Regions from separate parts of the Homo sapiens genome. Here region 2 is linked to region 1. The links come from fine-mapping of genetic effects on gene expression. Tissue or cell type: whole blood. Region 1 holds a variant in brackets; the other region holds the start of a gene. Each region is shown on its reference strand, or each on the opposite one.

Region 1 (17,145 bases):
GTAGGATGGCCCCTGCCTGGACAGTCCCTCCACACCCACTTCCTGTCCCCAGCCCAGCCTTAGCCACATACTCCCAGAGCTACCTCAAGCCCCCTCCCCAAGCCATGCCCCTTTCTTCAGCACCAGATACTGCTACCCATGACCCCCACCAGGTTGTAAACTCCTCAGGGCCGGACGCATAGTAGAGGCTCAGTAAATATGACCGAGTGACTAGACAGTGCATACATGGGCCAGTCCTGTCTCTGCCATTGACTTACTATGTGCCCGTGAATAAGCCCACTCACCTCTCTGGACTTCGGGGCCCTTGTCAGGAAAATGGGACAAATGTCCCAGAGTTGCCTGCTTCCCAGGGCTGCTGTGAATCTCAGAAACATCCCGTAACTCAGAAACACTGACAATGAATGGCTGCAAAGCTGTGAGGTGTGGCACAGAGGTAAGGAATAGCCACGTTTGTGTTGGCTGGAGCTGCTGTAACAAGGGGCTGTGGTCTGAAAGTGTGCCCCCCAAAGTTCATGTGTTGAAATCCTCACCTCCAAGGCAATGGTTTAGGAGGCAGAGCCTTGGGGAGGTGATTCATGGGATGGAACCCTCATGAATGGGATTAGTGCCCTTATAAAAGGCTCCAGAAGGACCCTCGCCCCTTTCCCTGTGTGAAGTTATGAGAACACAGCCATCTGTGATGCAGCAGGTCCTCACCAGGCACTGAATCTGCAGGTTCCTTGATGACGGGCTTCCCAGCCTCCAGAATGGAGAGGAACCTCTGTTGTTTCACAGCCACCCAGCCTATGGTATTTTGTAATAGCTGCTCGAACAGCCTAAGACACAAAGGTGACCCAAACTGAGTGGCTGAAACAACAGAAATTCATCCTCTCACAGTTCTGGATGCCAGAAGCTTGGACCAAGTTGTGGGCAGGGCCACGCTCTTCCAGAAGCTGCTAGGGAGGCTCAGTCCCAGGCCTTGCTCCCTGTTCCTGGTAGCTCCTTGGCCTATGGCCACAGAACTGCAGTCCTCACATGGCATTCTCCCAAATTTCCCCTTTGTAGAGGAACACCAGTTATGTTGGATTGGACCCACCCTCCTCCAGTATGGCCTCATCTTAACTAATGATGTCTGCAGCGACCCTATTTCCAAATAAGGCCACGTTCCGGGGTCTTGGGGTTTAGGACTTCTACATATGTATTTGGGGGACATGTGTTCAGCCCACAATACCACACATGATGACACATTTCCTTTGCCCCCTGTCATCTCTCCTGTGGTCACTTACGGAGCCCTCCCGCCCCACCGCAGGCATTTGCTATGGTCAGTGTTGGGGGTGCGAGTGTAGCAGCATTTGGGTTAGGGCTAATCCAGCCCAAAATAGAAGCCAGGGAAGCCAACCTCCAGCATGTCACTGGGTCCCCAAGGAGGTCAGAGTCTCCCTTCGCTGCCCTCAGGAGGAGAAGCACTTGTGTCCTTGTCTGTCCAGGCTCCCAGAACACTGATGGGACAGCGTGCAGTGCACCCTGGGCCCTGAGCACTGCCCCCGACCCTGCCTCCCCTGCAGTGTTCCCAACTCTGTCCTGAGCCTGGAGGATTCTGAATCAGTCAAGAAAGCCGAGTCAGAAGATATCCAAGGAAGCAGCTCCTCATTGGCCCTGGAAGACTATGTGGAGAAGGAGTTATCTCTGGAGGCTGAGAAGTAGGTGACCACATCAGCTGCCAGAATGGGCGTGGCTCACAGCAGGCCACCTCGGGGCTATTTGGCCTTGGGCAAGTCACTACCCCCAGGCGTGGCCTGGGTCATGTCCAACCATCGCTGACATCTAGCCCATGTAATCAACACAATATTGGGCGGGCATGCAGGCTGCCCTGGAGCTGCTCGCAGTGGTCTGGGTGGTAGAGATGGAGGCCTTTTGTAGACTTTGCAGCAGAACCCCACAGCCCAGACCCATTAGTCTGAGAAGGGTGGAGACTGCCCCGCTGTCTCCTTGCAAGAAACTTGCTGCACCTGTTAAAGGCCACTTACTTGCTGGTGCTGGTAACCATGAAATGAATCACACATTCGGCATGGCGTGGAAATCACATATTTCTCATGAAGATAGAAAAGCAAAATTAGGAGCATGTAGAAAGGTCGCAGGTGCCACCGGGGCCCTCTGGTTGGAACAGCACCCAACAGCCTCACCTGTGCAAGGGAGAGGGCCTTGCCCCTCCTGGCCCAACCGGGCCTGGGCTCTGGGCACTGTGAAGAACAGCCCTTCCGCCTCCCGGCCCTCTATTTTGATCTTTAGGACAAGAGAGCCTGAAGTGGAGCTACATCCTCTCAGCAGGGACAGCAAGATAACTAGTTGGAAGAAGCAGGCCTCCAAGAAGTAGCGCCATCCTGGCAGCAGCCAAGTGAGCCAGGCCCCGGCCCGGGGTGCTGGGGCTTCTTGCCAGCCCAGCCCTGCCTCCCCGGTCTCCCACCCTGTCCTCCAAGCTTCTATAATAAACCAGCGGGCCTCCAGCATTGGGGTGAGGCTCTGGGGAAGGACAGACCCAGCTCATTCTGTCTTCTGTGAGGCTAGAGGCCCCCAGCAGACTTGTCCCAGGTCACGTCCTTGGAAACTCGGTTCCCCCGATGCAGAACTTCCTCTGCGGCCAGTTAAGTCAGCTGAGGCCCTCCCACACTCAAGGAAGGAAGCTACCTCCAAGAGGTAGCGCGAGGATAGGTGACCCAGTAACCCCCAGGATGCCCAGATGGGACTGAACTGGGCCTCCTATACCCTTCCTGGGTGAGGGAGGCTCAGTCTATGGTGTAGGTGGGAAAGACAGCAAGAAGAGAACAGTGAAGAGGCAGAGAGAAAGGCCAAAGGCAGGGAAGAAGAGACAAAGGGAGAAATGAGAGGAGGAGCAAGGAGAGAGAGGAAGAAAAAAGTGAGGGGGGAGGGGAGGGGGTAAGAAAGAAGATGGAGGAGGGAGAAGGAGAGAGGAAAAGTAGGAGGAATAAACAAGGAGGGAGGGGGAGGGGAACAAGTAAGGAAGGAGGGGAGGGAGGAGGGGAACAAGTAAGGAGGGAGGGGCAGGAAGAAGCAAGTGTGGAGTGAGGAGGGAGTTAAGAGGGTGATGGGGAAGAAATCACTGAGGGGGGATCTGAGGAAGATGAGAATGGTGCAGGCTGGGAGACTTAATGACAGAGTGCTCACCCCTAGGGACCCTTCAGTGATGCCCTGAAAGCCAGAGCCCTGTGGCCTCCTGGGGGCAGACATCCCCACTGAGCCCAGCCACAGTGCCATTTGGTGCATTTCGGGCTTCTTTCCTGAGCCACAGGCCTTAGAAATCCTTGCCAGCATCAAGGGGCCCAAGACAGTAGTCCCTCTGGGGTGCTAAGTTTCCCCATGTCCCTGAGGGTGCCTGTGAGGGACAGAGATAACCCCTGCTCTGGGCCCACGGCTCTGGGCTGTCTCGTCCTAACCCCTGCGCTGGGCCCACGACACTGGGCTGTCTTGTCTGGGTTCACCGGAGCCCTTTCCAGGAGCAGCTGAGGACTCCAGAAGGTCTACCTTTTTCTCCCAGCCCAGAGCAGAGCTCAGGCCTTGAGCTGCAGGCAGCATTTAGTGAGATGTTGCACTTAGAAATGCTTATGCTTCCTCTGTAATATAAGCTTTTTTAATCTGAATTTTTCAAGCTTTAATGTTTATCCTTTGTATCATTCAAAAATGTTTTTTGAATTATACACTTGTTCTTCTAGAAATGAATTTGAAATGGCTTGCGATATTCGTAAGCTTGTATCTTTGATATTTAAGGACCTTGATGTTTATCATGGGTCCCAGGGGCTCTATCCACTCTCCCCTCCTCCCCTCCTGAGCACAAGGACAGACAAGGATTGGAAGGCAAGGGAAAGAAAGTTCCACCTCTGTCCTTGCAGGCAGGCACCTTCCAGCCCCTAAGGCAAGACCTTGGTAAAGGCCGGAATGGAGACCTCGGCTCAGGCAAGGGCCTGAAACAAAGCCTCTGCCCTGCCACCCTAGACCTGCCTTGTGGGCCGTGTGCTCAGGAGTGCTTGCGTGGGTATGCCAAGCAGTCTGCATGCGCATGTCAACAGCCGCGAGCACTGTGCACACAGACCTGTCTCTGAAGGGCAGGTCCTGGCCCTGCCCACGGGGCTCACCACACTGAAAGGGGCAAAAATGAGCTGCTCGTGAGCGGGACGCCTCCCACTGGTGGAACAGGCCCAGCGAATGTCCAGGGCTGCAGAATCAAATGTACCTTAGGGAGGAGGGAGAAAAGGGGAAGCCCCTCTCCATGGAAACCCCAGGAGAGCAGGATAAGGCTTCACCCCTCAAAGATGCCCCCAACAAACCAGGCACGATGGAAAGGTGCTCGATCAACTGAGAACTGAGCCATAAACTGTTTTTGGACTCTTCAGGCTTCCTTCTGTTGTCGTTTTGGCTATAGGGAGGTCCAAGCCTCTCTAAGGAAAAAGCTGTGGCCCGATGCACATGGATGCTCTAGGGCAAACCCTGGCACATCTGCTGCTGCCTCACCCCCAGTCTTTGCAGGCAGCCCCTACCAACTACCTTCCCGTCTCTTCCATCCACGGAGTAGCTCTTTCCTCTAGCCAAGACTCAGTTTTTAGGAAGACTCCTCGGAGGAAGAGAGGGTGCAGCTAGAGCTAAAACCTACAGGGCGGGTTTTGTTAGGAGGCATTGCTGTGTGTGACCTGTGTCTGAGTAGGCGGCATCCCATTACTCACCTCCCAGGTTATCAGCCTGTCAGGGAGACATGGAATGGTCAGCAGCCCATGGCCTCTGGGAAATGGGAGCAGGGTCTCCCCTTATTACTGAGAATCCTTTCTTGTTCAGGCTGACCCAGTGGAAGGCCCAGGAGAGGGCAAGACTACCCATGAATAGACTCGGCGTCCAGGAAAACTAGGGCAAGGAGGAAACCCAGGAATCATGGTGTCTGACCCCTTGATCTGCAGGTGAACCCCCAAATTGGGGCTCAACTCATGAAAGTTTTTGGCTTTGCTTAGGAGGCAGCCCACAGTGAAAGAAAGCAAGTTTATTACAGCAACAGCTACAGCAAAATGGCTGCTCCATAGACAGAGCAGGGCTAGTTTATACCCACTCTTAATTATATGCTAAATAAGGGGTGGGATATTTGTGAACTTTCTGGAAAAGGGGCGGGGAGTTCCAGGAACCATGTAAGGTAACGTTCAGGGTGTTGCTATGGCATCATTCATAAACTATCGTGGCACTTGTGAGTGGCCTATGCAAATGTATTATAATTAGCATATAATGAGCAACAAGGGCAACTAGAGGTTGCTTTCATCACCATCATGGTCCTAGCTGGTTTGGGCCGGCTTTTTTGTTGTTCTTGTTACACTATGCTTCCATCAGCAGGGCAGTGACCAAGGCTTGGAAGACAAGTCCTGCTGATCTCCCACCTCACCCTCACTTTATAAAAAAGGAGACTGAAGCCCAGAGGAAGGATGGCGGTACAGTCAGCACACGGCAGCAGCGGGCAAGGTCTCCTCCCACCCCTCCCTGTGGAGGTGCATCCAGGACCTAGAGGAGGGAAACAAGGGCGAGGCTTCTGTCTCCAGCAACACTGCGCACTAAATGGCCTGAAAACACCATCTTGTTAGAAAACGCTAGAAATACTGGATAACATAAATTAAATACCCCTTTAATTACATATGGGAACTCACAAGGTCATAGGAAAAATCTTCAGGGGCTGAAACACAAGAGGAAGGAGGGGAAACCAGGTGGTAAGCACTTGTCTCATCAGCGTAAGTGACAAGGTGGTCTTTTCAAGGAATGGTGCTGGAACAACCAGACAGTTGTTTGGGAAAAATTAAATCAATCTTTACTTCATACCACTCACAATAATTAATTCAAAATGGATCATAGACCTGTACTTAAGAGCTAAAATTACAACAATTCTAGAGGAAAACATAAGGAAATATTTGTGATTTTAAAACAAAGATTTCCTAGGACAGTAAGAAAAAAAGAAAAGAAAAATAAAATGGACTGGACTTCACCTTAAAAACTTCTCTTCCAAAAACACTTTAAGAAAATATAACGGTGTACCACAAACTGGGAGAAAAATACAAATTTCTGGAATAAAGACCTCTTACGACTCAGGAAGAAAACCCTGTATTTTTTTTAAAGGACTAAATATTTGAACATACATTTTGCAAAAGTAGATATATAGATGGTTAAAAAAAAATGACAAGATGTCCAATGTCATCAGTCTTTAAGGAAATGCAAATTAAAACCACAAATGAGATACTACTAGAAACCTATTAGAATGGCTAAAAAAATTTTTTTTGAACTGAAAATGCCAAGTACTGGAAAGTATGTGCAGCAGCTAGAACTCCCATACATTGCTGGTGGGAGTGCAAAATGGTAAAAGTACTTTGGAAGAGCATTTGATGGTTTCTTATTAGTCACACTTCTTATAAGAGCAGTGCGAAGGCCCAGGGTGAGGAGCAGGTGGCAGACCCATTCTGTGAGGAGTGGTTGGAGGGCTTGGGCTGGCTCAGCCTGCACCCAAAGCCTGAGAGAGGCTCAGTCACTGTCCCTCACCTCTGCATGTCTGTCCCAAGGCCTGAAACTGGGAAAGTGAAATCACAGGCAGGTTTCAGCAATCTTCTGTTGAAATAAGATGGGATTTTTAGGCTGAATCCCAAAAACCATAGTCAGAAATTTCCCCAAGAACCCCTAGGTCCAAAGATGAATAGGGCCAGAGCTAGAACCAGCAGGATGTCTGTTCTGCAAGATATAAACACCCACCAAAGGCAGCCTGGTTTTCACCCACCTGGCAAGCC[G/A]ACATGAACTGCTGGCTCCTTCCCTGCCCCAGAGAAACTGTGAAGCAAGTGTGGACACCAGGAACTAAACCCTTTAAGAAAAACCTGGAAGACTAAATGTGTCTAAAACTGGTTTGGTTGCAGGGGAAAATGTGGGTGGCTGCAGCCTGAGGAGGACAGGAGATGGGTGCAGTGGAAGAGAGCTGTATGAAATCTTCCCCAGCTCTGCCCTGCCTTTCCTCAGCAGAGCCTTGGGGCGGTCTTTACCTGCCTCTTTACTGCAGCAACAGCAGCAGCCCAGGCCACTGGTGCAGATGCAGGGGTTAATACTGAAGGACAGCAAAGGCTTTGCCATTAAGGTGTTGACGAAAGCAGATGATAACTCCCAGGTGCCTTTGACCATTTAAAAGCTCCATCTTGGCCAGATGTGGTGGCTCACGCCTGTAATCCCAGTACTTTGGGAGGCCTAGGCAGGTGATTCACCTGAGGTCAGGAGTTCAAGACCAGCCTGGCCAACATGCTAAAACCCTGACTCAACTAAAAATACAAAAAACTTAGCCAGGTGTGGTGGCGGGCGCCTGTAATCCCAGCTACTCAGGAGGCTGAGGCGGGAGAATCGCTTGAACCTGGGAGGCGGAGGTTGCAGTGAGCCAAGATCGCGCCACTACACTCCAGCCTGGGCAACAAGAGTGAAACTCCATCTCAATAAATAAATAAATAAATGCTCCATCTTTTCCCCTCCAAACTACTGATTACAAGGCCGTGAGAGGCCCCCTCTGATGGTGGGTGCTGCTTCCCCCAGGGATTTTTAAGGTCATACTCTAGCCAGGGAATTTGCCTAGTGGAGTGACAATAAATCTGAGTGAGGAACAAAGGTTTTGGGGTAAAGGGGCTCATTCGTTTACCAGCTCTGACATAGATTGGGGCTTGGCTTGTCATTCTTCCCCAAAACACATAAGCAGAGCAGCTGATGAGGAACATCATACATATAAGACAAAAGCTGAAGAGCCAGTTAATAGATTAGAAGACTATACTATAGAACTCTCCCAGAATCAGGAAAGGTTAACTATGTATAAAATATAAAAACAAGCCTGGGAAACAGAGTGAGACCCTGTCTCTACAAAAAATTTAAAAATTAGCCAGGTGTGGTGGTGTGCCTGTGGTCCCAGCTACTCGGGAGGCTGAGGTGGGAGGATTGCTTAAGCCTGGGAGGTCAAGGCTGCAGTGAGCTGTAATCACACCAATGCACTCTGGCCTGGGTAACAGAGCAAAACCCACAGCTCAGATATATATAACACTGAAAGATGTGGAGAAAAAATAAAGTACCAAAACCCAGATGATAAGGGTCCTGGAGGGTAAAAAAAAATAAAAATGTAGAGAAGGAACTATTATTTGAAAAAATAATGGAGATAATATGCCATAATTATGAAAAATGAAAGACTTCAGGGTAAAATTAATCAGAGTGCCAAACAGAAGAGTTAAGGAAAAACCTACACATGGACATATTACAGTGAAATCTGAGAAAAAAAAATCTCTAAAAGATACCAGAGAGAAGCAGACCACCTACAAAGAAACAAGGGTCAAGCTGACATCAGATTTTTCATAGCAATGCTAGAAGTGAGAAGAATGTAATATCTTTAAAGAGTTATAGGCAAAGTACTCTAAACTGTAGGGGTAGGAGTAGAGATACTAAAGAGACATAGCAGTGTGAAAAAGTATTTAGCTTGTTTAGGGGAAAAGTAGACACTGATAAGCATAAGCATCAATAGGAATAAGCAGGTATAAAATTGGTCTTAATGGCACCCACCATAAGACCAAAATAGAATGTATAACTTTTTGACTGCTCGGGAATACTCTGTTTGTCCAAGGGAAACAAGTGAAGAGGAAAAAAAAAAAAAGTAAAAAAGTAATACCAAAAACAAGTCTCAATATAAGGTTAGTATAATAAATGTAAATGGGTTAAACTTGCCAATCAAAAAATAGAGACTTTCATATACAAAAACTTGTACATGAATGTTCACTGAAGCATTATTCACAATAGCCATAAAGGGGAAACAACTCAAATGTCCATCAGTTGATGAATAGATGAATAAATTATGGTATATCCGTAAAGTAGAATGTTACTCAGCAGTAAAAAGAATACAATTTTGATTCATTTTACAACATGGGTGAACCTTGAAAATATTATGCTAAGTCAAAGAAAACAGTCACAAAAGACCACATATTATATGATTCTATTTACATGAAATATACAGAATAGGCAAATTTATAAAATCAGAAACTAGAGTAGTAGTTGCCTAGGACTGGAGGGCAGGAGAAACAGGGAGTGATTTTTAATGGATATAGAATTTCTTTTGGAATTGTGAAAATATTCTAAAATTAGTGGTGATGGTTGCACAACTTTGTAAATATACTAAAAATCACTGAATTTTACATTTTAAATGGGTGAACTGTGTGGTATGTGAATTATATCTCAATAAAGCTGTTAAAATGTTTAAAATGTAGGGATTCTCAGATTAGGTTTAAAAATACAAGATCTGACTCTATGTTGTCTACTTGAGACAGTCAAAATAGAAAGACACATAAATATTGAAGATAAAGGACTAGAAATATATACCAGGCAAATATGAACCTAAAAAGCTAGGATAGCAATCCTAATATCTGACAAAATATAATTTAAACCAAAAATATAGAGGATAGAGAAAGATGTTATATAGGGGTAAGAGAAACAATAGAACAAGAATGAAAATGCACCAGGATGTATGCAGTTTCAAAATACATCAAGAAAAAAAAAAACATAAAACCAACTTAAAATGAATTTTCTTATTTTTTTTTTTAAGAGACGGGGTCTTACTATATCACCCAGGCTGGTCTTGAACTCCCGGGCTTAGGTTATCCTCCCACCTCAGCCTCCTGAGTAGGTAGGACTATAGGCACACACCACTGCATCCAGCTAATGAAGTGAATATTTAAAAATACCATTCCCAGAAATTAATAAAGCAGACAAAAAATAAGCAGAGATATCAAAGTTCTGTATAATGCTATCAGTGAGCTTGACTGCGTGTATGTGAATCTACCTAAAATATAGAGAACCCACATTCTTTTTTGACGCCTGTGGAACTTTGTAAAAGATATACCATATATTAGATCATAAAGGAAGCCTCATTCAATCCAGAGGAATTTACAGATTATATTATCCAAGTAGGATGCAATGAAGTTAGAGACAAATAACAAAAATGTCTTAACACTCTAGGTCTTTGGTTAAAATTGAAATCCTAAAGGAAATTCAGAAATATTTAGAATTGAATGATAATGAAAATGCTACAATGTCAGAATTTGTGGCACACAGCTAAAACAGTATTTGGAAGAAAATGTAGAGCTTTAAGTACATTTATTATTATTACTTGGCTATTTTTTTAGCCAAAAAAGGCTAAAAATAAGAAAGACATGCAGACGTTAATGAAATGGTGAAGATGACCAAACCCTAAAACTAGTCCTTTAAATGAATTAATAAGTGGACCCCCAGAAAGATATATAACAGCTTGGGAAAAAAAGAGAAATAAAGATCTTTTTAAAAATATTATTATGAACAATCAGACAACAATAAATGTGAAAACCTAGATGAAACCTGGGGCAAAGCCTGCCGTGTATTCCCAAATGATTTCCCTTCCTTCTGGGCACACAGCCCTGTTACACTTCCCATTCTCCCATGGATTCATCTGCAGCCAGGTGCCTAAGTTCTGGCTAATGAAATGTGGGTGGCAGTTAAGTTCACCACCTCCAGGCCCAGCCTGTAAAAGCTAACCCCGCAGCGCCCCCATGCTGTCCGCAGGGAAGAATGCTGGATACAGAAGCGCCAGTGGAGGACTCTGAGCTCTTAATGCTCCCACAAGATGGGAGAGTTCTGGCTCTCAGAGCCCTTCCCCAGCCCACGACGGACAATGTCAAGAGCGGGAAATAAACTTCATTGTGTTAAGCCACTGATATTTTTGGGTTTGATTGGTATATCAATTACCTCCCTAATGTAAAATGGATATGTTTCTTAAAAAAACACCAGTATTGTTGCAAAAAGAAATCAAAAACTGGAAAAAACCTGGAATTGTAAATAAATGGAAACGGCAGTCAGTCTTATGCGTGTGCACGTGCACACACGCACATCCCAAAACCCAGGTCCATATGGTTTTACAGGTGAGTTTAAAATAGCTCATGTGGCTCACGCCTGTAATCCCAGCACTTTGGGAGGCCGAGGCAGGTGGATCACTTGAGCTCAGGAGTTCAAGACCAGCCTGGCCAACATGGTGAAACCCTGTCTCTGCAAAATATACAGAAATTAACTGGGCATGGTAGCCTGTAGTCCCAACTACTCCAGAGGCTGAGCAGAGAGGATGGCTTGAGCCTGGGAGGCAGAGGTTGCAGTGAGCTGAGATCACACCACTGCACTCCAGCCTGGAAGACAGAGCCAGACCATGTTTCAAAAAAAAAACAAAAAACTGTTTATGTGTGTGTTTTATAAGCTGTTCCTAAAAATAGCAAATTTTATTTTATAAAGCTCTATGTAAGTTTTGTCAAAGTACAATGTAAATATAGAAAAGTAAACAGTGTTTAAGCTCCATCTGAATGAATTTGTCAAGGTAAACATACCCCTATGATATAGTTTGGATATTTGTCCCTGCCTAAATCTTATGTTGAATTGTAATCCCCAGTGTTGGAGGTGGGGACTGGTGGGAGGTGTTTGGGTCATGGTGGGGGATCCCTCATAGCTTAATCTTGTTCTCAAGACAGTGAGTTCTCGTGAGATCTGGTTTTTGTAAAGCATGGTACCTCCCCACCCACTCTCTCTTGCTCCTGCTTTCACCATGCAAAGTGCCTGGTCCCCCTTCGCCTTCTGCCATGAATAAGAGCTTCCTGAGGCCTCCCCAGAAACTGAGCAGATGCTGGCCCCATGCTTGTACAGCCTGTAGAAACATGAGCCAATTAAACCTCTTTCCTTCATAAATTACCCAGTCTCAGGTATTTCTTTATAGCAGTGCAAGAATAGACGAACACAGCACATGACTAGAATCCAGAGCAAATCATCACCTGCCTCCGCCATAGGTTAGTTTTGCCTGTTTTTACATTTTATTCAAATGGCATCACATACTGTGCACTCTTTTGTGTCTGGGTTCTTTTATATTCATTATGTTTATGAAATCCATCCTTGTTGTATGTGATTGAAGTTCATTCAATCGCATTGGTTTATAGAATTTCACTGTACAGTTATACCACAATATATTTTTCCATTCTACTGTAGATGGGCAATTGGGTGGTTTCTGAGCCTAGTGTACCTCAAAATCAGATAAGGTCAATACAAAGAAGAGAAGATGAAAATCTCATTGCTTATTTCACTGATGAATGTAGGTACAAACATTCTAAATAAAAGATTAGCTAACTGAATCCGATGGTATATTTATTTTTTTAAATAATACATTATGTCAGGTAAGGTTTATCCTAGCAATGCCAAGACAGTTCAATGTCAGAAAATAAATCAATATAATTCGCTATATTAATAGACTAAATAAGAAAAATCAAATTCTATCTCGACTGGTGAATAAAATTTATTAGGTAAAGCCTAGCAAGCTGGAAATAGAAGGTCACTTTCTTAACCTAGTGAAGTTTATATAAGAAAAACCCACAACAAATATTTTTCTTAATGGAGACACTTTATTTTATTATATTATTATTATTTATTTTTTTTTTTGAGATGGAGTTTCACTCTTGTTGCCCAGGCTGGAGTGCAATGGAGCAGTCTTGGCTCACCGCAACCTCTGCCTCCCGGGTTCAAGCAATTCTCCTGCCTCAGCCTCCCAAGTAGTTAGGATTACAGGCGCCTGCCACCATGCCCGACTAATTTTTGTATTTTTAGTAGTGACAAGGTTTCATCATGTTGGCCGGACTGGTCTCGAACTCCTCACCTCAGGTGATCCACCCGCCTCGGCCTCCCAAAGTGCTAGGATTACAGGCATGAGCTGCCGTGCCCAGCAATGGAAACACTTTAAATGTTTTAATCTTCCCTGTAAAAAGACAAGGATACTACTTCAACACCACTGTCCAAAATATATTAGAGCTCTTCAACACTCTACAGAAAGAAATTGAAACAGGTACAAGGATGTAAGAGCAAAAGATAAAATTGTCAGTATTGAAGATAATTTAATCATCTACCTAGAAAAACCAACAGAGTCAATAGACAAACTGTTAGAACTGACATAGATTCAGCAAGATGCCAGATGCAAGTGCAACCTATAAAGCTGGTTTCTCATAGTGAAAAGCAGCAGGCCAGGCTGCAGGCACAGCAACACAAGGTCTCAAAACACACAGATGATGGATAAAAAACAGTGGCATTAGGTGCCAGGAATGGACTGAGGCAGGAAAAAGACAGTGTGCCTGAGAGGATGGGGCCCCTCTGCAGAGGGCCTGGGATGTCCTCCTAGGCCACAAAGATCCAGAATAGATACGTGGCTGCAGGTTGCTGAAACCCCCAACACCCCCACCCAGAACCCTCAAATATTTACCCCTTCAATAAATATTAACAACACCTCTTTCTCCCTGCACTGCCCCCCACTCTGGCCTTGAGGCTATGGGCAAGCAACTTTGGTCTCTGGACTGCCACTTCCTTATCTATAAAATGGGATGATCCCAATAAGCAACTTCCCAGGGATATTGGGTGGGTTAAATATGATAATACAGAGAAAGGATTTAGCTCATGCTTACTAAACATAAGTGAGAATAACTATTAATAAAATGATTAAGGCGCTCCCCCTGCCTTCCGTAATGCCAGCCTGCACTCCAGCAGGGCCCACCCCACTGCGGGCTGCTTCCAGTCTGCAGCTCCCTCAAGGGTTAAGTGGCTTGGCTGCGGGCCAAGGAGCAGGAGCAGGAGCAGGAATAAAGCATCAGCCCCAGCAGCAGCATCTCCCTATCTGTGAGCAATCTCCTCTGGCCCCCAGCTCAGGCCTTGGGAAATAAAAGCCCAGCCAGCTCCTGCCAGCTGCATCATAATGACTTTCCCCTTCCAGGAAGGAGATTGGGTGGGCCTTCCCCTCCTGCCTCTTTCTCCCTTCCCTAGGTTTAGGGGCTGCTGGGGACACGTGAACTGCCCCGAAGCTGTCAGCTCACATATGAGAAAGAGAGTGGGTTGTTTCGGCTGCTGGCCCTGTGGGGTTGGAGGGAAGGACAACAGGGAGGGGTCCTGGCTCTGGGAGGTGGGGAGCAGGAGGTAGGAGGTGCCCAGTTGGTATGCCCTTGGTATTCTGCATCTCAGCGTATCCTCCCCTGGGTCTGGACAGGATGTTTCCAACTGCAGCTTGTGACCCAGTAGTGAATTGCAAAATCCATGGAGTGGGTTGTGATGCGCATTTTGAAAGAGACAGCTGGGATAGAAAATACGCCTTGCATATAATAAAGCACAGGCTTTATTTCAGTCACCCATGAGTATAGTGGTTAAAAATGCAAGCCCCAGGCCAGGTGCGGTGGCTCACACCTGTAATCCCAGCTACTTGGGAGGCTGAGGTGGGAAAATCACTTGAACCTGGGAGGCGGAGATTGCAATGAGCCAAGATCACGCCACTGCACTCCAGCCTGCACGACGGAGCAAGACTCTGCCTCAAAAAAGCAAAACAAAAAATGCAAGCCCTGGAGCCCACCTGTCCAGCCACATGACCCCAGGTGTGTTAACTCTCCAGGCCTCAGTTTCCTCATCTGCCCATGGGGGGAAAACAGCATGACATGGGTTATTGTGAGAAGTTAAGGAGTGGTTCAGGAGTGGAGCTCAGGGAACATGCAAACGCCGGGAGTGGGTTCTTTCTTTTGTCTTCACTGTGCAAAACGTATTTCTTCCTCAAGAAAGTGGTCAGGAAAGCTTGAAAGCCACTGGATTTGAGGATTGGGTACAGAACCGGTTTATGGCAAGAATTCAGGGTACAGCCTTGGGCAGGGAGGTTGTTCTTAGCAAATTAAAAGGGAGGGGCCCGAGAGGAAACGGAAAAGTGAGAGTTCCCAGAGGCTGATCTGCCTGTGCACAGCCCTCTACAGTGGACACCACCCGCTGGCTTTCCTCGCTGCTCCCTCACACAAGTATCTTTACAGGAATCCTTACTCGTTGCTGGTCATTCAGTCAGCTGTTTTTTAATGAGCAGCTACTACACACCAGGACTTGGCCGTTTGATGGTGAAATGGAAGGCAGAGCCCACCCCTCCCTGATTGTACAGGTGAGGAAATCACCATGCTTGTCTTCCACCTACATGGAGCAGGCGCCGAGCTGACCTGGCTTTGCCTCATGTGATGCCCACCTCGGTGCCTCCCATGCCCAGCAGTCCATTTTCAAATGGGAAACGGAAGCTGGGAGTGGGGAAAAGCCTTGTCCGTGACCTCTCAGCCCATCTGTGGTGGAGCAGGATCTGATCCGGGACTCCATGCCCCACAGCTGCCGGGCAGCCCTTAGCCATCCTCACTGGGCTGGTGAGCCCCGGCTGCTCTCTGTGCAACCAAAATATACACGAGCCCACCTTCCTGCCTCCGCTCTCCACTCCACCCCTCAGCCTTCCCTCTCCATCATGGTGTCCTTCTTTCTGTCCTTCGGGCATGCCGAGATCCACCCCAACCTCAGGGCCTTGGCATGGCCACTCCCACTGCCCCGAAGGCTTGTTTGCTGGATCTCCACATGGTCAGCAACTTACCATCAGTCAGTCTCAGCTCCTCAGAGGGGCCCCTGCCCTCCCTGCTAGTGTTGTCCATTTCCATCCCCCAGACTCCTGCCAGCAGGTCACCTATTTTATTTCCCTCTTGGGGCCTATTGCTACCTGGTTTTGTTCAGTTGGGCACTGTCAGTCTCTCTGATGCACATGCAAGCTTTCAGGTTCTAGTCCTGCCCTATAAAGCAGGGCAATCTTGGATAAGTCACTTTCTCTCTGTCAGCCCCAGTTTCCTCATCTGTATCATGGGGACACTAACATCTACCTTTCAGCATATTGGCGAGGATGCAATGTGACTATGACACAGTGCCCAGCACACAGTAGGTGTATATCACACAGAAGGTGGTTTAATAAAAGTGGACGTGACAAACGCCCCAATTAAAAAATGGACAAAGCCACTGAATAGACATTTCTCCAAAGATATATAAATGCCCAATAAATACATGAGAAAACATTCGATATCATTAGCCATTAGGGAAATACCAATCAAAACCACAATGCAACACCACTTCACACCCACTAGGATGGCTATCATCAAAAGACAAACAACAACCAGTGTTGGTGAGGATGTGGGGAAACTGGAACACTCATCCATTATTGGAGGGAATGACAATGGGGCAACCACTTTGGAAATCAGCCTGGCAGTTCCTCAAGCAGTTAAACATAGAGTTACCAGAGGAATTGCTGAATTCCACTCAAGAGAAATGAAAACATATCCACACAAAAACTTGTACACTAATGGCTAAGCAAATTTTGATAAATCTATAGCAGGGAATATTATTCTGCAGCAAACAGGAATGAAGTACTGATATGTACTATAACATGGATGAACCTGGAAAACATTTGGTTAACTGGGAGAAGGCAATCTTGAAAGGCCATATGTTGAGTGATTCCATTTTTTGGTGGTGTTGTTGTGGTTGTTTGTTTGTTTTTGTTTTTGTTTTTTGAAACAGTCTAGCTCTGTGGCCCAGGCTGGAGTGCAGTGGTGCGATCCCGGCTCACTGCAACCTCCACCTCCTGGGTTCAAGCAATTCTCCTGCCTCAGCCTCCTGAGTAGCTGGGACTAACAGGTGTGCACCACCGGCTAATTTTTTGTATTTTTAGTAGAGACAGGGTTTCACTATATTGGCCAGGCTGGTCTCAAACGCCTGACCTCAGGTGATCCCCGAAGCCTGGGCCTCCCAAAGTGGTGGGATTACAGGTGTGAGCCATCGTGCCCAGCCTTGAGTGATTCCATTGTATGAAATGGCCAGAATAGGCAAATCTATAGAGACAGAATCTAGATGAGTGGCTGACTGGGCAGTGGAGAAGGGGTGGAGCGTGACTGCCAGAGCATGTGGGGTAATGAAAATGTTCTGAAATTGACTGTGGTGATGTACAGAATTGTACATTATCTGTGAATATACTAATAACCACTGAATTGTACACTTTAAATGGGTGAATTGTGTGCTATGTTGAAAACAACCCTATGAGGTCAATTCTCTTACCATTTTACAGATAATTCAGTTGAGGCATAGAGAGAAGATCACACAGCTAGGCAGTGGCAGGGTGAGGACTGGAACCCAGGTGGTCCGGCTCCAGAGTGCACATTCTTAACTGCTTGCACATCTGTCACCTAGAAACATGTTGGAATTTCTGGAGTACCTGTT
Region 2 (14,696 bases), not on the chromosome of region 1:
TGTCACTCTGGTTTGTGGACCAAACGTCTCTAAGGCAGCATTTCTTTAAGTCGCTCTGGAGAGCATTCACACACAGAGATGCTGTCTGCAAAACAGGTTCACTTAGGTTTTTTGAAAGCTCTGAAGTCTGACAGGAAATTAACCTGTGTACTTGTATGCAACCTAGCATTCCCCAAACTTACCTGACCAGAGAAGCCTTTTTTTTTTCTTCCGGTTACAGCAATTCCTAGAAACACTTTGAGTAATGCTGCTTTAAAGAAAACAGTTGGTCTCAAATAATCATGGTATTTTAACATCAGGGACCTAGCAGAAATTGTTCCTGCTTTTAGTCATCTTTTTCTTTTTTAGAGGACAGCCTTTGGTGGTTCAAGCATCCATTTGAGGAAAGCAAATGGCCTGTTGCATGCTGCCTCCTCCTACTTCATAAAGTGACTGACAGCTGTCAACAGGCTTCATTCAGCAGCTTTGTATTAATGTTGTCTGGATCCTCTGTAACAGGTTTTTATTATCAGGATATAAAGAATAGATAAACCAACTAAGTTTGAATTATCTTGCTGCCTACCTGACTTCCAATGAAAATTTTTTCTTCAGTTCCTTCATGATAAATTAAGGATCATTAAGCATTACAAGAATCATTTCTATGCCTTTCCTACCTGGTTAGTCGCTGCAGTGGGGATGCAAAAGCAGAAAGAAATGCTCTTACTGGCATCTGGAAAGACACTTTTTGCTCTGCATTTTTGGAAGTACAAAAGGTAATGAGTTAGTTTAAAGGAAACTTTGAATTAGTTTAGCATGTAATCTATAAAAGGTATCAAAATTGGCTCACGCCTGTAATCCCAGCACTTTGGGAGGCCGAGGCGGGCAGATCACGAGGTCAGGAGTTCAAGACCAGCCTGACCAACATGGTGAAACCCCGTCTACTAAGAACACAAAAATTAGCCAGGCGTGGTGGTGCATGCCTATAATCCCAGCTACTTGGGAGGCTGAGGCAGAATTGCTTGAACCCGGCAGGCAGAGGTTGCGGTGGGCCGAGATCGCACCATTGCACTGTAGCCTGGATGACAGAGTGAGACTCCATCTCAAAAAAAAAAAAAAAAAAAAAAAAAAGGGCGTCAAAATTGTGATGCTGGAAGTGAGTCCTTTCACCTAACATACCTCATATGACTTAAATTTGATGAATGGCACTAGTGGCTTGAACTTCAAGAGAATTCATTAATACCCTATATCTAATAGTCTTAAAATACATTTAGTACAAAACCCAAATTTTTCTCTTAAACAGGTTTATTTTAGCAGCTCAGTATATTACATTCTACATATTTGTCTTTTAATGTGTTTATATTTCTGCCTGTTCTGCATAGATGGCATATTCATTAACTTTTGTAGCTGACTTTTTCATTTGCTATTTGCTGCTACCTGGCCTGAAGAGTCAGGAGGATAAAAAAAATTCATTTGGTGGAAACATGGAGCAGCACTTCAGAAGAACTTTACTTTGATGCAGACTTCCGTGTTAGGTTTTCTTCCTCTTCTTTTTCAAATCCTGAACAGACGACAGATCTTCCCTTGGGATACTGAGCACAACACTTACGCAGTTCTTGGATGACAGCCTGACACTTTGATTCCATGTAGCTGTTGGCTGAAAAACATACAGGCAGACTCTAGTCATGATCTCATAGGACTAAGGTACAGGGAGGTTTAGATCAGTGCTTCCCACCCCTTTTCACTTTCAGTACCTATGGAACTGGAAGAAAGAAGATATACCAAAGTCCACTGAATTCTTTCTAATTTAGAGACCTGTCGACAGGTTCGTTAGGGAAAGTATGATTTACAAAGTGGTTGAAAGCTATTTTAATATATAATTTCCTTTAAGGTTAATAGCATGTATGCACCTTTTTCTAGGACATTGGTTTTTAACATCATTTTTATTACTGGTCACTAATTTGATGAATTAGGAAAATGCACATACACCACACATTATTTTGCATACAGTTTAAGCTGATTGTTGGACCTCCCCTACTAAGGCTGTGCATCAGGAATTGGCAAACTGCAGCCTTAGGGTCAAATTCAGCCGGTTTTTACAGCTGGGAGCTAAAAATGGATTTTAATTTTTAAAGGGTTGTAAACACACAACACATACACAATATATACAACAAAGGCCTTTGGCCTCCAAAGCCTAAAATATTACTTGTTTGGCCTTTTTCATAAAACATTTGCAGATCCCTACTATACATAAACACTAAGTTAAGGAGGACCTGACCTAAAGACTCTAGGTCAGCTGCAGTTAATGAGTCCCCCAGTACTAAAATGGAGTACATGGTAGTTAGCTCAGGATAGGAAAGACAATTCTGATTAGAAAGGCAGTATAGCAAGGTGGGTAACAGTCCAGATTTGGAGCTAGACCAAGGGCGGGGTTGGCGGGGGGTGTTCAAATTCCCACCATACCTCTTACTAGCTATGTGACCCTAGTCAAATTACATAACTTGTGTGTCTGTTTTCCCCTTTATGAAATGGGGGTCATAGTAGCATCTACCTCATGGATGAAAGGCTTAATACGTATAAAGTCCTTATAACGGTGCTTGTCATCTTTTAGTCTTTCCAGTTCTTAATCCTCCCACACTGCCAAGGGGGTGTCACCAGCTCTTTTTAACTTATTTTTTTCCCTTAGCTATGGGTTATTTCAAACAAGGTAAGGTTTTATTTGGGAGAAGGAATTAAATGCAAAAAACTTTTTCCTTTTCCTTAAAGTTGGAGGGAAGAAGTTTGACTAAAATGGCATTATTATACATCCAGATTTTAATCTAAAAGATTTTATAAAATATTGCTAACATCAAAAAATGAAAAGTCCAAGAATGAAAGCTAAAAGTCCAAGGAGATACACAAACAAAGGATTTCTTTGGTGGTGAATCTTTGGGGGAACTCTGAACATTTTTCCTTCATACCTTTCTATATTTTCATGACCTTCCATCTCCATCTATTACTTTACTAGTGAGGAAAACTTATTAAAATTTTTTCAAATTCAGATAGCCTTATAGCTTTTTCTATTTGCTCTTCTGGCAACAGTCATTCACTGATTAGAAAACTAAAATCCTCTAACATTTGGTCAAACTTAGCAGCTGGACAAATGGACAAATCACCTCAAATATGCTTTAGTCGAGATTCACTTCTGCCTTTAAGAGTTAGTTGATGACTTTGGCAGCCTGAATTCCAATTGTTATTTCAACCGCACCTCTTCCAGATTGCTTTTAAAAAGTGAATTGTCAGCTGCAGTGAAGTATAACCAACCAATTTAAAACTAGCCTTTTAGTAAAAACAAACAACAACAACAAAAAACCCTTTTTTTCCTAGCCCTAGCCCTAGGAAGTCTGAATTGTTCTAGGTAAGTGTTTAAAGATCTCCAGGTGATGCTAATCACCTGGAGTGAAAACCCCTAGCTTTGATCACATTACTTTTTATTTTCTGCATCTTTGATGATACAATGAAGAGAATCTTCAGGATAATTACATATACGTTACATTCTTAAAAAAGAGTTAATACAGATAAAAGAATAATTGGTCTCTTATAGTTAGTTCACAGTGGAAAAATATTTTTAAAGCATTTTACAATATACTACCTTGTAAACATTTCTGTATCTCACAGGCTTGCTTCTGGCACGGATCCTTCTGCGGCATATCCAGAAAACTAAAACAAGAAAAATGATTTTTATTTTTCTTTTTTCCATAAAGACTTTAAAGCCCCTCTACGTGGAATTTTCTTCTGAGACAAGCAGTATATGCCCTTACAATTGCTGGAAAATAATTACACTAAAAATACTCTTCCCAAACATAGGATGAATCAACTGTATTTTTATAATATCCATTTCATTAGGCTTGGAAGATATAAATAGCTTTACATGGAAAAAAAACCTTGAATTCAATCAACTCTTTTTGAATACTGTAAACCAACGTTAGGCTAGAGGAGCCGACGGCGCAGCCTGGCTCTATCATTCGCAGAAGAAACCCTTGATAAATGATTAAACTCCTTGAGCTTTTTTTATTACTCATATATAAAATGGGAATCATACCTACCTCAAAGCATTGACAGGAGGATTAAATGTGATAAAGTATATAAAGTACATACAATAGTGCCTGGAAAGGACTCCAATACATGGTAGCTATTATTCCCAAGACTTTTTTTTTTAAAGTAAAACCTTACTTTTAATGTATATAAACTGTTATAACTACTTTAACTCAGGAAATTCTTTACAAGTAGTAAATGTTTTCCTAGGAATCAGCAATATTTGGTGTTATTACTTCCTGAGAAAGGTGCCAGTTAAGCAGCTAAAATGGTTTTTCTTGAAGTTCTTATAGAAACCAGCTTATTTAAAATATCTGTAATCAGAGAATGAATTCAAGAGCCCACAATTTTGATCAGCAACTTCCAGTAATTTGAAGACACGATTTCAGATAGAAAAAAAGGCCCACAAGCCTTTGTAGCTAATTTCATCAATGCATATCTCTTTTCAGAGCCCTCTAAATACTCAGCAGATCCAAATTAGGTCAGTACTGGGATGGGAAACACTGGAGCAAAACCTAGGATATTTACAGGATGGGAGAAGGAAAGGCAGGTGAATTGCTGCAGGGCAAATAAGCGACAAATAGATGTTGATGCTGCTAGGAGCTGCTCTCTTCTCTCTAAATCAGTACCAAGTCCTTGGTGATCAGGGCATCTGTTCTGTAGAAGGTGCTGACTTTTGTGGGATTCATCAGATCCCAGGTCCAGCCGATGATGTCCATTAAGGGTTCTATGGCAATTTCCAAAGGAGTCAATTTCAAGTTACGGATCCTGACTAAGTGCTTTTGTTGACTTGCTTTCTGCCTACGTAACCTCTCTCTGCAGTTTCACTTGCAGTATTCTTCATGACCCTTGCTAAACTTCTGTTTCTTGAGCAGTTTTTCAACCCACTCCCTCCCCCCAGGCCCAAGGGTGGGTGCACTGCAGTAGTGGATGAAGTGATTGCCAAATACTGAACAGAACAAAGGAGCATATCTTCGTAGAATCCCAGCACCTGGAAAAAAAAATCATTAAAATCACCACAACTGAATAGAGCCAAAACAAAGAGGGGGAGGACAGAGGAGAAATAGAAATACATACCAGGTTAGTCATCAGGCAAAAGCTTAAGCAACAGCTCCTGTACTCCCCTGACCTGTCAGAAAAAGAAAAGTTTATGGAGTACTCTGTTACGAGAGTCCCAGTACAATGGAAAATAATTAAGCAACATGTGTACCATTAAATGATGCTGTATCTGCCACAAGCGAGAGTTGTTATCCATGTAGCGCTCCTCCGGGTAGAGTTGCCACATGAGAGGTAGCTGGGAGGTAAGAAGGTGACTTGGCCTAGCTGCGTCACCTAAGGGAACCTGAATTTGCTGGACTCGTGCCCTTAGGAAACTCGTCTCCTAATGGAAAGGAATGATCAAAAATAAAACCAAAGACTTCAGAATATTGAGACTGGAATAGAAACCAAGTTACTTGAAAGCAAAATCAAAGAAATAAGCAAAATGTAAACAGTTACCTCTTCCACGACGGCCACCCACGTGCGCTGGTATTCGTCGCGGTAGATACCCTCTTGGTGAACCCAGAGGTGATCGGGTGGAGCCCCCACATCCTCTCCTGCCATTCTGGGCTTTGGGTTCCAATTCTAGCCCTGCTTTTCTCCACCTAAGCCTGCAGCACCCGCGCACAGGACACAGGTGTGACTTTTTGGGTTTGAATGAACTCACCAGTAAGCAAGGTGATCTGGTACTAGCAACCACTAACCAGAACCAAACCTCATATGTCTATTTGCACAACCTAAATAGAACCAAGGACATCTGAAGCTTTCTGCAAGACAACTAAAGTGACACTCAGGCAGAGCCTCAGGTAGTGCTGCTGACTGCAAAGCGCTCAAGAATTTGGCTAGGTGAGGAGTTCTGTGGAAATGTAGGACTAGCACTACAGGAAGCTGGGCAGTGGTCTCACACATACTGCATTCACAAGCAGTGTCTGGCAAAATGTAGTTAGCAATAGAATATGCAAAGAGCGTGCCTAAAGACACACTTATTTTGGCAGGAAGGCAGTATAACAGACACATGCATGTCATATTCCCCAGGTAAAAGCCACTTCCAAGCAGTTTCCATTTTAAAAGGTAAGATTCTGAAGGACATATATGCATGTCTTTCAGAGTTGAAATTAAAAGTTTGTTTTAAGGGCAAATGATCTATTTATCAGTTTACTAAGAAAGTTTACAAATAGCGGATGGGCATTTCTAGAAGGGGATTTTCTTGTTAGGAAAAGTAAGCTAGCTTCATGGAATTTCTGAGCTGCAAGAGACTTTGGGGATCATGCTGATTTGGAGCTGAGTGAGTGCAAATGAAAGTTATCCATCTAGGTCCTTGTTTTATTTTAATAATTCTGCAGGATGTTACAGGAGCCCATTTTTCCATAGAGGACTAGGTTTAAATTTTGACTTCCTAAGCCAGAAGACCAGAAGCACATTTGAGAGGTGTAAAGGAAGCATACCTCCCAAAGCATTTGAGTGGTAGGGCAAACTCTATAACGATCCTCTGCCCAAGCCCCAGATATCATTTCAGGACCTCACAATAACTTGATGTGCATTTTGCATGAGTCAATCTTCTAGACCTTACTCAGAGCATTATAGCGCAGTTGTACTGTATTTCTACCTTTGGCCAGAGTATAGATACGGCACTGGGGAGCTGCCCCTCAAAACAAAGACCTGCTATTCTCATTAGGTGGGAAAAGAAATGCAGCGTGGGAGGGTGGTTGTTAGAGTCCTCAAAGTGAGACTGTCGAGAGCAACCAGATGCTTCACCCATTATACCCTGAGTGCATCTGACTCTGAGCCTGGTGTAAGCTCCTGTCTTAGTTTTCATACATATGTGCTCTCTCATTTCAAACTCGTCTAAACTTTCTCTTTAACCAAATCCTGATTTCTCTCAATGGCAACACCACCATTCCTGATCCTGCAGACTCAAAACTTATGAATTATCTTGGATTTCTTCCTCTTATTCAGTTGCTACATCCTATATGTCACCAATTCCAGCAGGCACTACAACTACCACTGCAGTTGAGACCAACTTTCCCCAAATACCAGGCTCATTTCTAGCTCCATACCCTTGCTCTTGTTTTCCACTTGCCTAAAATGCCTCCCTGGGCCTCTCTGCCTATCTTAGTGCTATTATAGCAGAGTCCAGGTGCCTGCCTCCTCTATGAAAACTTTAGAAAATTCTTGCCTCTTTTGACTACTGTAGCATTTATATTTAAACAAAGTCACCTTACACATTTGCTTTGCTTATTTCACAAGTCCTGTCTTCCCTAAAGCACAGTATTGTATTCTGCTCAATAGCAGGAATGATACAGTTCTGGGCACCCCAAGTCTCAGGTACTGGTCAAGCAATGTTTCAGTGAACAGGTGTATATGTATGGTGGGTAGGGAAGGGAAACAAAGGAACGCCACAGTGGTTGTCATGATTGGCTATGTATACGTGGGTAGAGATTGATTCTCTAGGCATAAGCCTCTGGCTATATATAATTTTTTTCCAAAGCCCCCCTTTTTTCCCATTTGCAGATACAGTTGTTTTGCCTCTCTTCCTTCCCAGAGCTTTGGAAAAGAGAAATACAAATAAAAACCTGGTAAATACTAATGTCAAAATAAAATATATTAAATTCGGATTTCAAGCACAGAAGACTTAAGTGTGGCCAATAACTGTTTTAAAAAAGTGGAAACCATGTGTTAAGGGTTTCAGGACCATCTCAATTTCATAGATAGGTCCTAGCAACAACCAACATGTTGACATTTAAATTTGTTTTGAATGGAAAACAAAATTGCATTGGTTATATTGACATTAAAAGGAAATAATGCCAGTGGAATAGAGGGCAAAGAGTTTGGAGATGATGGTCTGAGTTACTGAGTCACTACAAAGAGGCCTATGAGTCACTACAAAATATTCTCAGAAGAAAGGCAGTGTGATGTGCTGCTGTGACCCAAAGGTCAACATGCTGGGCATCAGCGGGATGAGCTTGGGAACCACCTCTCAGCACAGTATCCTGGAATTGTGTGTGCTAGCATTCAGAGGGCATGCAGGCCCAGAGAAAGACAACTGCAGTGATCAAGGGACAGAGAAGTCACCATATGAGCATGAACAAAGTCCTCAGCAGAGAAATGCAAAGGCTGAGGGAGAGGGATTCAGATCAAAGCCTATACAATCACAGGTTTTATGAGTGGAAAAATGTGATTCTTAGAAAACTTGCTCCCAACATTTTCCTTGGTCAAATAAGTTTGGGAATCTTGGAGAGTCATAAAGCACATTAGTGTAGTAACTGTTCTGGCAAGTTATGCAGTAAAGAAACTTTATGTTAACATTTCCCAAATTTATTTGACTAGAGAACATTTTATTTGCACATGATACTTGTTTACAAAATTCAGGACTTCTCGAACTAAGACGAATCTTTTAAAACCTCAACATAGACTTAGGTACAAGGTGCAATACAATACATGGAATATAAACTTGTGCAACTCAACTCAAGGAATACTGCCAGCTACAAATACAAATGAATTCCAAAAATGTTTAGATAACTGCATAACTTTATCATCCACTAGAAGAGATTGTCCCCATGAGGGTCACCTTGATTTCGGGGCCAGAGAGCACACTGGCCAAGACAGACAATTTCTTAGTAAGGCATTTTGTAAATTAGGTTTTAAATGGATGACATATAAGATAGAAGGGCTTCCTTAGGTAGTAATCTAAGTAAAACTATCATTTTTCCTTTACAGAATAAATTCTTTTGTGTCTTTTTTAAAAAAGTATAGTTTGCTTTAATTGCCAGGTTGATGAACAGTTTTTAAACATTGATCAGTTGAATACACTTATTTTATTAGAAGTCAATTAATAAACTCGTCCAATTACAATGAGTGAAATTACCAAGAACACAGGCCCAGGCCTGTGTATGAGTCCTGAGTCTGTCACTTACTAGCTTTGTGACCTTGGACAAGTTAACGTCTCTCCACCTCAGTTTCCTGAGGTGTAAAATGAGAATTAAAGAACATATTAATCATGATAGTCTTTATTTAGCATTTCCTATATGTTTACATATATTGACTCATTTAATTTTCACAATCTTCATAGGGCGCTATGAGGTGGGCAGAATTATTATCATCCCCACTTAAAGGTGAGGAAAAGAAAGGCACAGAGAAGTTAGGTAACTTGCTCAAGGTCACACAGTGGGGAAGTTGTTGAGCTTGACTCCAAATGGGGCAGTTTACATGTACCAGGCATATAAATGCTTAGTATCTAGCATATAATAAGCTTGCCATAAATGTTAATAATTTTGTTCTACTCCAGTTAAATGCCTGGAGCTGTAAAAGGCAGCCATGAGCATTAGAAAAGTTAGTGAACCTCATTCTGGAATATGAGATTGACTACCGCCGATAACAAACAAAAGGTATTTTTCTTCTTGAAAGTGCCTAAAGGCACTATATCCCATCACCAAATGTTAATGTCATAATAATAAGAACAGCCGTTCCTGCTCCATGAGGACGGGGCATACTAGCCACAAACAGTAACTGAAAATAACATATGATATAAAATTGAAACAAGAGAAAATTTAGACAGGTCCAATGTAACTGCACACGAAAATTTTCCAACCTTCATCATGATCAAATTAATTATAGAAAGATGTGCCATGTGATCCTTACAGATCGTTAGGTAAAAACGGAGGCTGCTGGCGTGCACATTACAGATCGTTGCACTGGATGGGGACCCTATGTGTGGGGAGACTTGGGTTGGAACTGACTTGGGAGAAAAGAGCAAAGCATCAACACTTCAAGTAGCACCTTGGGAATGTTCCCTTTCCAGTACTGCCATACCTGCCTGGCTTCAAAACTACACAAAGTAGAAAACCAAATCAAAGACACGAACACGGACGGGCTGTGGAGGCGGCACGGCATATATTGTGCTTTGATTTAGAATCGCTTTCAAAATCCACGTGTGATTCCTAGACTTGTGAGTTGGAAGATCTGTACTTTTATCCTTGGCACGTTTGACATACCTCGAAATAAAAATTACTTTTACATATATTTTTACTGTCTGATATCATCGAGACAAGGAGACCCGAGGAAACTTGCATTCTGGATACCTAATGTGATACATCCGAACTTGAATAAAAACTGAAGTTCTCCATTTCCCCTTCCCTGTATCCAACAAATAGCTACCTAAAAGCCTTTGTAGAAAGTAGCAGCAGCCAAGCTTAAGAGTGATACTTTTTCAGATACAGTATAACACTGTTTCTGCAAAAGGTTACTCACATGAATATAATGTTTCTTGGGCTAATTAATCCGCCTTGAGAACAGCTAGGCTAAAACTTCCAGGTCTCCCACCCTGGGCCACTCAAGCCAGGATCGCGACGTGAGCCCGGGGTGAGCCGAGGGGCATCCCGGGCCGAGGTCACTCGAACCGAAGTTATGAGGCGCGGGCCGGCAACCGGAAGTGGTCCAGGGAGAGTTGTACGAGATTCGGGGGCTGTGACTTGGAAATAAAACAAAATAAAATAAAACCTTAACTGTTTTGGGACTGACTTTCAAAAGAGCGTCCCCCTGGCTCAAGAGGCCGGCGTTCGCGGAGATGTCGTCTTAAAGGGCTGTCCCCCAAGCGTGTAGGCCGCGCACGGGTCTCCTTAGCGGGCGGGCAAAATGGGCGCCGGTACTCGGGAGGCGCCTGCCCAGGCGCCCGGGCGCCGCTCACAGAGTACGTCCGCCTGCGGCCCCAGAGCGCCGCCTCCCTGCCGCCCCCGCCGCCCGGCCTGACGCCCGGACCGCGGCCGGCCACCGCCCTCCGCCCCGACGGCCACGCCTGCCCCAAACCGCGCGGGCGTTTCCCAGGTGCTGCTGGGCGGGCCCCGCCCCCGTGCCCCAAGGCCCGCCCCCGCGCGCCAGCCGCGCGCCCGCTGCCCCCTCCTCGCCCCCACAGCCCCGCCCCCACAGCCCCGCCCGCTCCCTAAGCCCCGCCCCCTAGGAACCCGCGCGCCGAAGGCCAGGCCTGGGCGGAGCGCACAGCGCTGGGCGCTGGGGAGGCTGCGCCGCAGCACCCGGTTGGTCAGGACCAAGTGGGCCCGAGGCGGACGTGAGAAGGGTCGGGCCAAGATGGCGGTGCAGGTGGTGCAGGCGGTGCAGGCGGTTCATCTCGAGTCTGACGCTTTCCTCGTTTGTCTCAACCACGCTCTGAGCACAGAGAAGGAGGAAGTAATGGGGCTGTGCATAGGGGAGGTGAGTAGGTCTGTTAGCCTGGATGGAACCCTGCTGAGCAGTCCCAGTGTGTCCCCGGGGTGGGTGCCGGCAGCTCCCAGGGCTGCGGAGGCCACAGGCATCCTCGATTTAGGTCCTTGGACACCCTTTACATAGCTCTGTCGCGGGGAGCCCCGTTTCTTCTGGCCGCCTGACACTTGTTTAGTCTCCTGCGAGCCCCCGGCGGTCTGTACAGGCCCCGGGAGCCTTGCCCTTTCTCCTGTAGCCTGGGGCTTCTCTTTAGATCTGCGCTTTTCGCCCGGTTGACCAAAACTGCAAGGCAGGTCAGAAAGACACTGGAGTATAATGAGGATGTCCGGGTATTACGACGCAGCAGCTGACCACAGTTAGAGCCCCTTGCCTCGCCTCGAGTCTTCTGTCTAGGGAGCAGAGATATCAACCAAAGCATTTGAAGGGTATCGAAGAGCCTAACAGAAGGTGCGGGGCTTGAAGGAAGCAAAAGTTTCCGCTGCATTGTGTTGAGGAGGGGCCGAAGAGGATGAGGAAATACAGTTTAGCTGTTTACAGTCTAAAGTAATTCTCCAGTCTTTCATACCATGTGCGTGAACACATGACCTAATTGTCATATAATCTGCATCCATATATGTCAAACAAACGTAATGTGATCAATAATGTTTTTTGCTTTTTCCCACTCTAGTTGAACGATGATACAAGGTAAGACTGTATTTGTTTACTCATATCTTATAATCTCTAAGTCATTGTTAACCTAAAATTATGGCGACTTTGGCAGTATTGTGTCCGGATCGTGTCTTAAATTAATTACCATTATCACTCCGGGGCTCCCTTAATGATACAACCTTGAACTTTGGTTTCTGCCTTACCTCCTATTCAGTTGAGATATGGGATAAACATCTTAATAAGCATTATCATAATTGTTGCGTTTTAGGGGTGAGACAGAGCCTCACTCTGTCGCCCAGGCTGGAGTGCAGTGGCGCGATCTCTGCTCACTGCAACCTCCGCCTCCCAGGTTCAAGCGATTCTCATACTTCAGACTCCCGAATAGCTGAGATTACAGGTGCCCGCCACCACACCCGGCTGTCTTTTTTTTTTGTACAGACGGGGTTTCACCATGTTGGCCAGGCTGGTCTCGAACTCCTGGCTCAAGCAGTCTGCCCACCTCGACCTCCCCAAGTGCTGGAATTTCAGGCGTGAGCCACCACACCTGGCCTTGCTCAGTGTATTTCATGTTCTGTCTCCCCTTAAATGCCAGTGAGATATCAGTAATTTTCTTAGTGACAGAGAGCATATACGTTTAGAGGCATTTCCCCATTGATCCATTCCTTCACGTAAATTGACAGTGACATTGCCTTTCCTCCTGATGGACCTCAGTGATCTCAGAGATCCCCAGTAGCTTCAATACTTGACGTGGTGAAACCTTTCGGTAACATTTTAATTTAAACTTCAAATCATACCATAGTATACTTCTCAAGCCCACCTCCTTAGTTCCCAGGATTCCAGGAATTTAGCTTTGTCCATTATAACTTTATACACTCAGCCACTTGTGCATGTGTCCCAGATTGCTTCTAACAGATAGAGTGCAGCTCTAGCCTCAATTCAGTTTCCCTCCTCTTCTTTGGTCTCTGCTAAGATTTCATTGCAAAAACAGTTAATCCTGTTATTTTGCTTTAATTCCTTTTTATATTCCAAACCCCACTTCCTTTTTTTTTTTCTAATTTATTCCCAGTAGGAGTGACTCCAAATTTGCATATACTGGAACTGAAATGCGCACAGTTGCTGAAAAGGTATGTGTGCTAAAATTTTGCATGATGGAAACTTGCAGTTGGGGAAAGATTTCTGTAATCCAGTGATCTCAGCCAGAGTATGCGGTTTCTGGCTGGATGAGATATTCTTTCTAGTAAAATCAGATGAAGAATCTACTCACTAGGAATGGGACCTAATTTTCTGTTCTTTGTAGCAAATTGTCTCTACTTGATCAAGATTAATAATCACTGTCAGTACCACCCTCTTGCTGCTCTCCTTGCTGTCACTGCCTGTTTTCTGGCCCTTCTCCCACTTTCCTTGATACTTTGGCATCCTTGATACTTTCACATCACTATTACCTCTTTATCTCGAATTCCAACATCTACTCATGCAGCCCTCTCTTCTTAAACAGGCAAACTGACCATAGCATCATAGTTCTTAGTCTGCCTTGACTTTTTTCCTATCTGCACTCCTACACCATCTTTTGTGGCATGCTCTAGCCTTGATGGTCTAGTGTAATGCTTCTCACCTAATCGTGGTATCGGACCAGTTAACGTTTCCCCCAGTCTGTCACAGACCGATGCTTTTGTAAAATACAAAAAAAATGAATTACTTCCCCTCCTCCCACCAAGTTATCAGGCCACACCTTCATCTACTTATTACTACTAGTTACAAACTTCTCCACCTTAATCACTTTGCATCTCTTCCCATATCAAAGAAATAAGTCCTCTTCCTATCCAAAGCTGCAGCTTCTTCAGAGACCTTGTTTATCAAATGTTCTGTCTCTTTTCTGGGTCTTCTCCCTGTCACCTGGTTCTTTTAGGATAAACATATGCTTAAATTACTCTCATTTTCAGAAAGGAAAGCTACTTCTTAATCCCGTATCTTCCTGTAGTCAGTACTCTTATATCCTTCCTTTAATAGCCAGACTTCTTAAAAGAATGGGCTACAATTACTACTCCTTCACCTTCCCCAGTCAAACCCACTGAGGTCTGGTTTCTAATTCTACCTTCGGTGGATTATTTCCTGGTGCTTATCTTCATCTTTCTCCTTGAATCTCTAAACTCTCATGAGTTTTTGTTGGTTTTGTTGTATTGCCTTTATTCCTGTTTCCCCCTTCCCACAATCCTTTGTGGACTCCTCTTCCTCCTCTGTCTATGCATTAAATATTACTCATTCCTCTTAGGCACTGAAATCTCTGACTAAAGCAAGAAAGAGAGAAAGAAACAATTCACCCTGGGCATCAGTTACTAAGATACATTCCAATCTTAATAATGTAATTTTATTATTCAAGATTTCATGCCCTCGTCTTGAGTTTTATGTCAGTTTGTACTGTCTAAATTAGATATTAAACTTTATTAGTTAAGCTGCCTTTTTAGTGTTGCATAGTGTATTTTTTATCCTTTTATTTTTAGCCTTTCTGTATACTAATATTTAAAATGTGTCTCTTGTGTCTCTTATTAGTGGTAAATACTTTTTAAAAAATCCAGTGTGATAATCTTTTTAAGTGGAGTATTCAGTTGAAAAACAAAACAAAAATAAACCACAAAAAAAGAAATATCATGTGAGCCACGAATGTGATCCATATACATAATTTTAAATTTTTTAGTAATCACAGTAAAAAGGAATAAATGAAATTAATTTGAAGGGTGTATTTTAGTTAA

What was found.
Region 2: it holds the start of MTCP1, and the variant in region 1 is fine-mapped to the expression of MTCP1 in whole blood (TOPMed, PIP above 0.99).

The regions. Positions count from the first base shown.
Region 1 is chr3:14,770,523-14,787,667 of GRCh38, forward strand. C3orf20 (chromosome 3 open reading frame 20) reads left to right here. Exons shown (of 17, transcript NM_032137.5): 16 at 1,545-1,679; 17 at 2,269-2,514. The coding sequence ends at 2,353. Among named protein-coding and RNA genes, the nearest start is that of LINC02011, 32 kb to the right of the region's middle. The variant G/A (reference allele first, on the strand shown) is at 6,792.
Region 2 is chrX:155,060,359-155,075,054 of GRCh38, forward strand. It overlaps MTCP1 (mature T cell proliferation 1), which reads right to left and starts at 10,778. Exons shown (of 5, transcript NM_001018025.4): 1 at 10,336-10,778; 2 at 5,548-5,699; 3 at 5,261-5,431; 4 at 5,128-5,179; 5 at 3,676-5,041. The coding sequence starts at 5,652. The coding sequence ends at 5,132. CMC4 (C-X9-C motif containing 4) reads right to left here and starts at 10,778. Exons shown (of 3, transcript NM_001018024.3): 1 at 10,336-10,778; 2 at 3,608-3,675; 3 at 1,264-1,633. The coding sequence starts at 3,665. The coding sequence ends at 1,485. It overlaps BRCC3 (BRCA1/BRCA2-containing complex subunit 3), which reads left to right and starts at 11,150. Exons shown (of 11, transcript NM_001018055.3): 1 at 11,150-11,292; 2 at 11,969-11,985; 3 at 13,019-13,073. The coding sequence starts at 11,170. RefSeq lists enhancers at 10,406-10,705, 10,690-11,411, 11,176-11,395, 11,406-11,455, 11,412-12,133 and a silencer at 10,746-11,065.